2 separate regions of the Homo sapiens genome follow, and region 2 is linked to region 1. A link means that fine-mapping ties the variant in region 1 to the expression of a gene that starts in the linked region. Tissue or cell type: blood mononuclear cells. Region 1 holds a variant in brackets; the other region holds the start of a gene. All regions are shown on one strand. Distances are from middle to middle.

Evidence for each region. PIP is the estimated chance that this variant, and not a neighbour inherited with it, causes the effect.
Region 2: it holds the start of B3GNT7, and the variant in region 1 is fine-mapped to the expression of B3GNT7 in blood mononuclear cells (TOPMed, PIP 0.97). The same link has a PIP of 0.9 or more in whole blood.

Annotation. Positions count from the first base shown.
Region 1 is chr2:231,421,897-231,427,861 of GRCh38, reverse strand. No RefSeq gene overlaps it. Among named protein-coding and RNA genes, the nearest start is that of B3GNT7, 29 kb to the right of the region's middle. The variant C/T (reference allele first, on the strand shown) is at 3,446.
Region 2 is chr2:231,393,114-231,399,078 of GRCh38, reverse strand. It overlaps B3GNT7 (UDP-GlcNAc:betaGal beta-1,3-N-acetylglucosaminyltransferase 7), which reads right to left and starts at 3,369. Exons shown (of 2, transcript NM_145236.3): 1 at 3,265-3,369; 2 at 1-1,348. The coding sequence starts at 3,275. The coding sequence ends at 154. RefSeq lists enhancers at 1,758-1,827, 770-1,969, 4,238-4,287, 4,583-5,164, 5,165-5,747 and 1 more and a silencer at 3,218-3,687.

The DNA.
Region 1 (5,965 bases):
CAGAAACAAACATAAAAAAAGGTTATGCGTTGGTCGACTGAGGAAAATATTGTGACTAGGCCGGGCATGGTGGCTCAAGCCTGTAATTCCAGCACTTTGGGAGGCCGAGGTGAGCGGATCACTTGAGGCCAGGAGTTTGAGACCAGCCTGGTCAACATGGTGAAACCCCATCTCTACTAAAAATAAAAAAAATTAGCCAGGCGTGGTGGCACACACCTGTAATCACAGCTACTTGGGAGGCTGAGGCACGAGAATCACTTGAATCCAGGCAGTGGAGGTTGCAGTTTGCTGAGAATGCACCACACACCACTGCACTCCAGCCTGGGCAATAGAGTGAGACTCGGTCCAAAAAAAAAAAAAGAAAGAAAGAAAATACTGTGACCAGACCCTCACAGGTACCTAAGGAGGAACCTAATTTCTCCCAGGAGCAAAGCTTCAACATTCACTAATCCAGTGTTTGTGGTGATTTTATAGAACATAACCACCACGAATCAGGAGCATGGGCTGTACCTCCTGCTGGTTGTGTTTCTCTGGTTGCGATCTGACTGATATAGTGACAAAGTCACAGAACTGCTAATACTATTGTGGTTTTTTGCCACTACCTTAACAAATTTTGAAGAAAAGTTAAGGGTTGGTGAAAACAAAGATGTCTATTTATTCCCATCCATGCATATGAGTCCCCTGAATGCTCTCTGTGGACCCTGTGGGCATTCGTGGACCCCAGGTTAAGACCACCTGCAGGTTAACAGAGGATAATGCAAAGGCCCACACCAATCATGGTGAAGGGTGGAGGTAGCAATGTTCCCACAGGCTCTGAGGAAGCAGTGAAGCTGGAAGGCCCCACCGGGGAACTGGAGGCTGAGGGCTCAGCAGGCCTGTGGGCTCTGCTCCCCAGCTGAAGACACGGTACCCCTAGTTCTTCCTTAAGCTGTGGTTGCCCCAAGCTAGATCCATCCGAAAAAACCATGGCTGCCTACGGGTGTTGAGGAAGCGTTGTTTGCAAGGGCTGGGGTTTGCCCCAGTGGCTCTGAGGCCTCTCCCTCTCCTTGCACTAAACTCAGACAATTCTGTTCTTCTCCTATTATTCTACCTGTGATTTTAAGTGCTCCTCGTATCTGCACAAACTTACCCCCATCTCTTTTTATTGAAAAAGCAAACAGATCCCCTGATTCTTTGGGTCTGGGATGATACTTTGGCTGACTATCTGTGCCCTCCACCCACTACACCCTCCCAGAAAATGAAATTAATCTACTTAGGTTCATCACAAAGGTGGGCTGGTCGACCCAGTGGCAGACCGTCCCGCCCATGTCACCATACCAAGCGCCCTTCTGCTTCAGGTCCTGGGAGGTCAGGACTTCCTGGTGTCATCCTCAGACGGCGGGACAAGGCTGGGGCTGGATTCTTCCTGTCTGGGTTCACCTCCAATTGCTGGTGCTTCCTTAAGCACAGCACTATTGCCCCCATGTTTATGAACGGGAAAGGATACTAATTAGAACCAGCCAAAGGAAGAGACACAGGGTAGAGTCCAGGGAGGGTCCTGATGAGGAGCTGGCAGCCACCGGTGTGGCATCACCTCCTTCTTGCTGTGATGTGTGACAATTCGCAGAGTACCGCCAACGGGTGTGGCATCACCTCCTCCTTGCTGTGATGTATGACAATTCGCAGAGTACCGCCAACCACGGAAGCTTCCCCGGGCTTTGATGTCAGAATTTGTGTTGCAGTTTCCCTCTGTGGGCAGGGTGATGGAATCATTGCCTGTGAGGTTGAACTGGGTCTCTAGCTTGTTTCTTCGCCCCGGGGGTTGCTCTGACAGCTCTCGCCCTCAGGGGCCCATCATGAGTCACCTCATTAGGGTAACGGTAAACCATCAGGTGTGGTCTTCCAGGAGCCAGGACAAAGGCACAAAGGCCAGATCTCTCTGGGGAGAGGGAGCGTGTGAATTGCTTAGTACACAGCTCCTGACTTTAGCCTCCTGCCCCTCAGGCTGGTGCTTCCCCAGCTCTGACTACACATTCTGCTTTGTGAGTGATTTTACGAGTCTCACCTGGCCTGGAACTGGCAATGGGGAAATTGCTGAGGCAGGTGGCTGGCTCCAGGGCCTGGCTTGAAGATGGGCAGGAAGGCACTTACACTGCCCTCTCATGAGCCCCCCGGTACCCCCTTACAGCCCCAGACCCCAGTGATGTTCAGGCTTTTGGAGCAAGCCCTGTTGCTTTCTGCAACCTCTGTGGGTGGACTCGGACTCCTGACTGGTCACTTGCGGAAGAGAAGACCAGCGGCTCCTCTCCCTCTCGCAGGAGACTGAAGGCTGCCACCTCTGAGACCTCCTACCCTTTGGCTCCCCTTCTGGGAACCATGTGAAAGTGGCTGTCATGAGCCACATCCTGTCCAGCTGAAGTCCTGCTTGATGTTGGCAGAGGATGTGGTCGTTCAGAGCTGGGAGGACAGACCAGACACCAAGCAAGACCAAGAACTCTCCACTATTTCTGACTCTGGATGAGCGGGGTGCAGGGTCTTGAGGAGTAACTGGGGAACGGGACTGCAGAGACTACAATTCCCTCAGGGAATGTGGCTGTGGGATGAGAGTAGGGACACAGCTGAAGAGGTTCATGGGGTTGAAGGAGTTTCTTGTTTTTGTTTGTTTTCAACACGTAAAAGTCTTGAGCCCATTTAAAAGGCCATGGAGCTAGGCGCGGTGGCTCAGGCCTGCAATCCCAGCACTTTGGGGGGCTGAGGTGGGCGGGTCACATAAGGTCAGGAGTTCGAGGCCAGCATGGTGAAACCCTGTCTCTACTAAAAATACAAAAATTAGCTGGGCGTGTTGGCAGGTGCCTGTAATCTCAGCTACTTGGGAGGCTGAGGTGTGAGAATCGCTTGAACCTGGGAGGCAAAGGTTGCAGTGAGCCGAGATGGCACCACTGCACTCCAGCCTGGGCAACAGAATGAGACCCCGTCTCAAAAAAAAAAAAAAAAAAGAAAAGAAAAGAAAAGAAAAGGCTATGGAGAAGGATTAGTGGAGCAATGGATGTTGACCACAGAAGAGAGACAGTGGTCCTAAGCGCTTGGGAAGGGTGGGCTCTGAGACTCAGGTGGAGGCAAGCAGGGGATGGGTCTTTTGTTTTTAAACTGGAGGTGCTCTTCCCACGAGTCCTTCCACGTGCTCTTTGAATTAAAAGGCAAGGTCATCTGATGAAAAGAGGGGAGATGTCAGAGTCAGAGGTTTGAGAAGTGCAGAGGTCTCAAATGTGCCCAGGAAACATGGAATTAGACCCAAGTCCACACGATAATTCAGTACGTAATAAATCTGCCACTTCCACTGGTGTTGGCGTAACTGGAATACCATCTGCCTAGAGGAAAAATTATATTAATATCTTTTTTTTTTGAGACAGGGTCTCACTCTGTCACCCAGGCTGGAGTGCAGTGGTGTGATCATGGCTCACTGCTC[C/T]CAGGTTCAGGTGATACTCCTGTCAGTCTCCTGAGTAGCTAGGACCACAGGCACACACCACCACTCCTGGCTAATATTTTTAGACTATTATTTGTAGAAATGGGGTGTCACTATGTTGCTCAGGCTGATCTTGTGCTCCTGGAATCAAGTGATCATCCTGCCTTGGCCTCCAAAAGTGCTGAGATTACAGGCATGAGCCACCACGCCCAGCAATACCTCATGTCTTATATTAAAATACATTTCAGGTGGATCAAATATGTTAATGTAAAAAGTGAAATATGACAGTACTAGAAGAAAATATGGAAAATTTATTTTATAACTTAAAGTTGGAAAGAGCTTTTTAAATTTAATTTTTATTTATTTATTTTTTCCAAGACAGAGTCTTGCTCTGTTGCCCAGAGCTGGAGTGCAATGGCGCGATCTCGGCTCACTGCAACCTCCGCCCCCCAGGATCAAGCAATTCTCCTGCCTCAGCCTCCCTAGTAGCTGGGATTACAGGCATGCGCCACCAGGCCCGGCTGATTTTTGTATTTTTAGTAGAGACGGGGTTTCATCATGCTGGCCAGGCTGGTCTCAAACTCCTGACCTCGTGACCCACCCGCCTCGGCCTCCCAAATTGCTGGGATTACGGGTGTGAGCCACCACGTCCAGTCTTGTTTTTAATTTTTAAATTTTCAGTGCTTTTTGGGTAGGAGAGGACTTTCTAAGAATAACGACATAGTACCTAGAAGCCATTAAGGAAAAGATGGAAAATTTACATTAAAATATCACTGTATCACAGAAAAATTATGAACAAAGTCAAAAGATAGATGACAAATGGAAAAATATTTTCAGTGCATATCAGATAAATGTCTTTAATGAACCCCTTCAACAAATAAGTAAAAGTCAATCCCATTTTAGTAGGTGTCGCAATGGAAAAAAAGACAAAGACAAAGACAAATAAGCCAATAGAAAAATAGGCAAAGGATATGAACCAACCGCGAAGCAGGCTCACCGTGCGCGGCTTACCAACTTGTCGGCATCTGGTGAGACGGAACACACTCACATGTACCCAGTTACACGATGAGGATTTATTACAGATTGGCAGCAAGGGGCAACAGAGGCCTAGGATTCATTCAGAGCCAGTTCCCCAGGCTCAGGCCAGCTGCCCAGGGCTGATGGAATCTTGACTTCATGCGTCCCACCTGCACCATGGCTGAAGAACCCTGAAAAGCAGCCTGCCCTGAGCTTTATGCTCTGTGAGTGGCTGAGCTACAGTGTTGAAGGACACCCTGTTTCTTTTCTTTTTTTTTTTTTTGAGACAGAGTCTCGCTCTTGTTGCCCAGGCTGGAGTACAGTGGTGCGATCTTGGCTCACCGCAACCTCCACCTCCCGGGTTTAAGCAATTCTTCTGCCTCAGCCTCCCGAGTAGCTGGGATTACAGGTGCCTGCCACCATGCCTGGCTAATTTTTTGTATTTTTGGTAGAGACGGGGTTTCACCATGTTGGCCAGGCTAGTCTTGAACTCCTGACCTCAGGTGATCTGCCTGCCTTGGCCTCCCAAAGTGCTGGGATTACAGGCATGAGCCACCCTGTTTCTAAGGCGGAACTGGAACAGAGCCTGAGCAGTTCTGGCCAGCTCCCCCTTATCTCAAGATGTTGCATTTCTAGCACATTCTACAGTTAATTTTCAGAACTACAAGCAAGAAAGATGGGAGAACCGGGCTGGTTTAAGGTCACCTAGAAAATTGTCCTGTACAAATCTTTCTCAGGAAAGGAAATATGAATGATTCAAACACATGAAAAGATGTTAATGTCACTCAGAGTAGGAGAAATGCAAATTAAAACAACACTATGTGCATTTTCTTACCTGTTAGATTGGTGATGATCACCAGGTTTGCTGACACATTTCATGTACCTGCTGTTTGGGACAATTGCCAGGGAGGGTGAGTTGGGAATAGCTAGTTATCTGTTATGGACTGAGTTGCATCCCCTCAAAATTCACACGCTGAAGTCCTAACCTCCAGTACCTCAGAATGTGACTGTATTTGGAGACAGGGTCTTTAAAGAGGGAATTAAGTTAAAATGAGATTGTTAGGGTGGGGCCCTAATCCAATATGACAGATGTCTTTATAAGAAGAGGAAATTTGGACACATACACCCATAGAGTGAAACTAACTCTGCCAACATCTTAATCTCAGACTTCAGCCTCAGACTGTGAGGAAATAAATTTTCCGTTGTTTAAGCCACCCAGTCTGTGGTTCTCTGTTATGGCAGCCCTAGCAAACTAATACACCAGCAACCTTGAAACTGACCTGAAAATTTGACTTCTAGTAACTTATACTACAGATAGACTGGCATGTGTTCCTGGCATGTGCAGGATATGCGAGGGTATTGTTTGTAGCAGTCAGGGTTCAATCAAGAAAACAGAAGCCACTCTAGGTATTTTGAGCAGAAAGAGAAGCATTGGAAGGGCTGGGAGAGGAAAGGCCAGGAAAGTTCTAGAAGTTAGGAGATGGCAGGGAAGTCATCACCAGTGAT
Region 2 (5,965 bases), 29 kb after region 1:
ACCTGCACCCCACCACACCCAGTGGCACGTAGGCCTCAACCCTCCACCTCCCCTTGGGGACCAAAGGCTAGGCCTGGGCACTGTGGCTCCAGCCCCAATACCATGGGGGCTCAGGAGCAAGTGCCCTGGCCTGTCCTAGTAGCCCGGCTGGGGTCAGAGCACCTGGAGCTTGCGGGAGCAGGTGAGATTGCTGTGCACCAGCCCCCACATGGCGAGCAGCTCAGGGGGCAGCAGCTTGTGCACCACGAGCATGGCGCGGAAAAAGCACGGCTCCTTGTTCATGCGGCTGTTGCGGTTCCGGGAGATGCCGAAAGTCTTGAAGCCCTCGTGGGCCGTGGGCTGCACGCCCAGCACCTCCAGGCACATGCCCAGAAAGACGTCGTCGATCGGGTAGAGCTCCAGGGTGTCGCAGGCATGGTGCAGGCGCCGGGCCAGGCTGCCGGCCATGAGGAAGCCACCGCCGCCTGCATACGGCGGATAGCTGGCCTTGCCGTACAGGGCCCCCGGGATGTAGTATTTGTTGTCTTTCCTGCGAATGGGCCGAGCGTGCTGCAGGACATCGCCCACGAACAGGTTTTCCTGTGGCTGCCGGTCAGCCAGAAATTCTAGCAGGTTGGTGGGGTTGACGAAGACGTCATCGTCGCCTTTGAAAATGAAGGGGACGTGGGGGCAGTAGATGTCCAGCCACTTGAGGAAGTGGATCTCCTTGAGGGTCAGGTTGAAGAAGGTGTCGAGAAAGCCCCACTGCAGGATGTCGCCGTAGAGGCGGTCTTCGTAGGCCAGCAGCTGCTGGTAGTGCGTGCGCTCCTCCTGCTTGGAGGCCGTGCCCAGCAGGAAGAGGGTGCGCACGGCGCCTCGGCCCCCACCCGCGGACTGCCGCTCGCGGCCCCAGGTCTGGCGGATGGCCTCGCGGCGGTCGTGCTGCGTGATGACCGACTTGACAACCACCAGCAGGTAGACATCGCCCCTGCACTTCTCCGGGTGGTTCAGCAGCATGGGGAAGTAGCGGCAGTGGCGGTAGAAGAGAAACTGCCGGAACTGCGGCTCCAGGACCTGGAACCAGGGCTGGTGGGTCAAGTTGATATTGGCTGAGCAGTTAGTGGTGGTCACGTCCCAGGCCTGGGGCCCCTGAGAGGCCATGGGCGTGGGCGCAGCCACATCTTTCGGGTTCTTCCAGAAGTTGTTGGGGTTCACCAGCTGTCCATTTGGCTTCTGGGCCTTCTGTGGCTCCAGGGTGGGTGGCGGAGGCTCCTGCAGAAACTGACCAGGGGTGAGACTGCGTTGGAACACCGTCACGGCCACGAGCAGGGCCAGGGCCAGGCACAGACTCCGGTAGACGGTTTTCTTCCTGTGGGGGAGAGCGGACAGTACAGAGGAGAGAGAAAAGATGAGCCCAGGGCTCTCCTGGCGCCCCCCTTGGGAGGCTGGGTGGTCCCAGACGGGCAAGTGGACCTGGGCACAGGCTCAGTCCCGGAGTCCCTAAGCTGTCAGGGTAGGGTCCCGCTTCCTCTCCCACCCTGCCCTTTCTTTCTCCCACCCTGCCCTCTCCTCAAGGAGCACTGTGGAATCAGGCCCTGACGCTTACAAGCTGAATGAGTGGTTTACAACCACTCTGAGCCACGATTTCTTCTTCCCCCAAATGGGGCTAAAACACAGGATTGGAGTGCTATATAAAGTACCAGGCAGCGGGTGCACAGTTAGGGGAATGCTGTCACCTTAACAGGAGGGCCTCAGGTGGAAACCTCTGCCCTGTTCCCCACGCCTGGAACCCCAATGCCTTTCATTTCCCTGCGGTGTACCTACCCACAGCAGTAGGTATCGGTATCATTAGGTGACTCAGAGCCAGAGTCATTGAGAGGGCACCCTCTGATCCTCTGTGCCGCCCGGGAGCTCCATCACATGTGGGGCACATTGGAGAGTGGCTCGAGCTTGGGACCTGAGGAAGACTGGCCCTCCTCCCCCTTCTCCAGTCTGTCTCACCCAACAAAGAGCAGCCCTCATGGTTGATGGAGGCCCAAGGATGCAGTGAGCACCTCTAGCATGGCACTGCCCCTCACCCCTACCTTAACATCCCCAGCTCATAACACCCCATTAGAAGACATGAGGCTACAGCTCTACTCCCTGGGAGGGGGCACATTTGCAGCTCCAGCCCTTGAGGGACCCTTCTTGCCCAGAGACCCCCCCACCCCAACCCCGGTCCACACCCATTTCGGAAGCAGAAATTAGAGCTCTCTGCCAGGAGTGCTGGTCGTCCCAAGCCCTGGGGCCTGAGCCCCTGTCCTGAAGGACCTCCTCTCTTCATCTCACCCTCCGGGGGCTGCCAGGACACCTGCCCCACCCTCCCCAGTGGAGACCTGGGGGCTGAGAGCTCTGGGGACAGCAGAGTGGCCTTCCAGGGCCAGCCTAGCAGAGAGATGGCGCTGACCTCCAAGGGGGAGGAGCAGGGTGCCAGGAGAGACAGGCAGCCCGTGGAGACGCCTGGGTTGCCCTGAGGGCTGGTCCGGTTGCAGGTCCAGGCCCCAGGGTGAATGCAGGCTGAGCCCCATAGAGCGACATTTTCCCCATAGGGTCCCCAGGTTGCTGGGGCATGTGGTTGGAGGAAGACAGGGGCACCTTAGGTGCAGGCTGGGGGGTGTGACCCAAGGTCCAGCTCTCCGGGGAGGAAACGGAGGGCTCCGGATCCGGCCCTGCCAGCCCTAGGGGTTCCAGGGAAGCCGCCCACCGAGGCCGGGACGGGGGAGGTCGGGGGGTGCACCGGGAAGGCGGCGAGGCCCTGGGCTGCGGGCGCTCCACCTGCCGGGTCCGCTCCATTCGTAGGGAAAGCCCGGGAGGGGCGGAGAGGGGCCGGGCGGGCGGCGGTCCGAGGTCCCGCGGAAGGAAGCCCCGAGAGGAGGAGAGTGGCCCGGACGCAGGGGGCCCTCAGGGGTCTGGAAGGGAGAGGGGACCCAGCTGCCGGCAAGACCTGGGGTCCCAGCCGCCAGGGTCCTGGAGCGGTGTCCAGGGCCGCGGGGCCGGGGAGCTGAGCGCGGCGCCCCGAGACCCCTCGACGTCCCCCACGGGTCCGGGGCCGCGTACCGCGAACATCTCCCGCCGCCGCCGCCGCGCCCGCCCGCCCATCCGCCCCCGGGAAACTGAGGCCGGCGCGGCGCGCGCGGGGGCATCTCCTATCCCGGGAGTCCCGGCGCCCGTCTGTGGCCACGGAGGAGGGGGAGCCCCGGGCCCACGCCCCCGCCCAGGCCCCCGACGGCCCCCAGCCCCACTCACCACAGCGACATGGCGGCCCGGGCCGGAGCGGCGGAGGGGCGAGCGGCTCGCAGCTCTGGGCGCCACGGCTCGGGCCGGCGGGACGGCGGGCGGGTGGGGACGGAGACCGGGCCGCGCCCCCGCCGCGACTTTCCTCTTCCCGGCCGCGGGAGGAGGGGCCGGCAGGGGCGGTGGCCCAGGTGCCTTAACCCCTTCGGCGCCCAGGGCCCGCCCCGCCGCCGCCTGGCGGGGACCACCCCATTTCTCCGAGACGGCCCCTAGGCTCCCCAAGCGCGCCTAGTAGACAGTGCATGGCCGAGGCGGGGCTTCGGAACCCACGGGGGTCACCTCCAATCCCGGGGACGCCTGTCCCTGGCGGAGCCTCCCGGGGCGGGGGGAGGGCGGTCGCCGGTCCCTCCTGTACTTGTGCGAAACCTGAACACCCGGTCCCCTCCAAGACCCTGGGGCACCCCAAGGCCCAGCCATTTCCCTCTGGCCCCATTCGGACTTGTCTTTGGGGCCAGAGGCAGACAGGGTGTCCTTTTCTCCCTCTGCTACCTTCTGCCCCTGCACCTTTCCCCTGACCAGACGGACCCCTTGCCCAGCTGTTGGGCTACCTAGGGCCAGGAGCAAAGCCAGCCACTAGGGAAAGAGGCCGTATGAGACTGGGCTCCATGTCAGGACTCGCCCAGGCCTGTGGCTCTGGAAGCTTTTTTTGTGCCCCCACCATGTCCCTCTCTTCACCTCTGGGGTTCCTCCCACCTCTGAGGGCTCCCCACCACCAAGGGAAGGCCTGTTGGCCCAGCCCTATCTCCTTTCTTTTTTCACTTATCACTCAAAACCCTTTTTGTCCTCAAGCCTTTATTAGTCTGCTTGTGCACATCAGGCCTAGCGGCTCTGGGGAGTGGGCTGACAGAGAACACGGAGAGGGCTTGGTCCAGCCAGGTGACTTCCAGAATCCTCCAGCAGGGAGAGCCATCGCTGGTCCTGTTGTTGCTCAGGTTGTTCTGGTCTTGTTCCGGGTTGAGGTTTCGGTGCTTAGCATCCAGCAGGACCTCCAAAAGGCCCACAGAATTGAAACGGAAGCACGTTGTGGTCCAATCATAACAGCTAACGTCCACTGAGCAGCTACAATATGCCAAACCTGGTTCTCGGCCCATGCATGACTGGCTCACTTAATCCTAGAGACATACGCTATTATTCCCACCTTACAGGGGAGGAAACGGGGGTGCAGAGGGGAACTCCCAGCCAGCTCAGAGAACAGCGAGCCCAGAGTTAGTAAGCACATCCAGGAGGCCTGCATGGCCTGAAGGCTGGCTCTGAACCCTTCCTGCCTGGTCTGAAGGCTGGCTCTGAGCCCTTCCTCAACCTTTTTTCCTTTCCCAGGGACAGCAGTGACATGGAGCTACTTTCCTGCCCAGCACACAGGGAGGCTAGGAGTCCTCAGCTGGATCTTAAGCCCTCGAGGCCAGGGTGAGGAGCCCCTTCTGCCCTATCCTTAAGGTTCAAGGGCCCTTTGGAGGGGGAGGAGAAACTTAAGGTACCATAGAATGTTCTGGAATGTTGTAAGTGCCAATTAGGGAATGTGAAGGGCCTTTCAGGCAGAATTTCAGAGGAGTATCTTGGGGCTGATGTCCTTTGTAATGGCCCTCCAAAAGTTCCAGAGCAGGGGAGGGGCTGACCTGCAGCCCAAAGCCCCTGTTGGCCTGGCTGCCTGCCACTGAGGGCCACCCGCAGATTCTGCAGCTCCACGGCTCCCTTCATCCCAGTGTAGCCTTGGCCACCGGTTCCCGCAGGGCACCAAGCATTTTGCTCCACTGCCCAGCCTTCCGAGTTCCCCACTTCACCCTGCAAGTGTGGCCCTGGCTTCCCTGGCTCCACACAGGTGCCCTGCTGAGAGCTGCCTCCCTGGCTTCAGCACTGACCTCTCACCCGGTGCTGTGGGGTCTCCTCCTCCTGCTGAGGGGTGGACACAGCCGTCCCTGGGAAGGGGGTTTTGAGCCCATGTTTGGGGATGGCAGGCATGGGCGTTGGGTCAGAGTCTTGCACTTCCTGGTTGTCACTGGGGGCAGGTGGCTTTTCCCCTTGAGACCTCAATTTCCTGCCAGCTCAGGGCCTTGTGAGATGACGCCAATGAAGCACAGACATAGGCATCCCCTATGTAAAGAACTTGGTGGCAGGCCGGCTACTGTTAGTGTTATCATTGATGTCCAGCTACTCCACAAAGCCCCAGAAGCACAAGGGCCAGAGGAGGTGGGAGCAGAGGGAGCTGCCCAAGGTCAGCGGAGTGTTTGCCAGTGGAATCTGGTCAGTTGAGACAGGCAGTTTGTCATCATGGAATCATTTGATCTGTGCCTAGTTTGAATTCAGAGAGGGGAAATGAATGACAATTAAATGCGAGTCCCTGATGGTGGGGTGGGGGTGGGGAGTGTGGAGCCGGGCCAGGCTCGGGTCAGCCTCCCCTGTTACTCCAATGTGCTCCCCTGTGGGGCAGCTGGGCCAGTCCCTATGGCAAGCACAGTGGTCCCCCCACCGCCAATCTGGCCAGTTCCACCTGCCCCAGCCAGAGGGCAGAGCCCCAGCAGATTCCTGTGGATTTAAGCGAGGCCCTGAGGAAGGCAGGCCTGTCTGCGATGGGATCTGCCTACCTGCTGTCCCCAACCCTGGCTGAAGGCAGAGCCCAGAGGTAGAGGGAAGTTCCAGAGTGGCAGATACCAGGAGA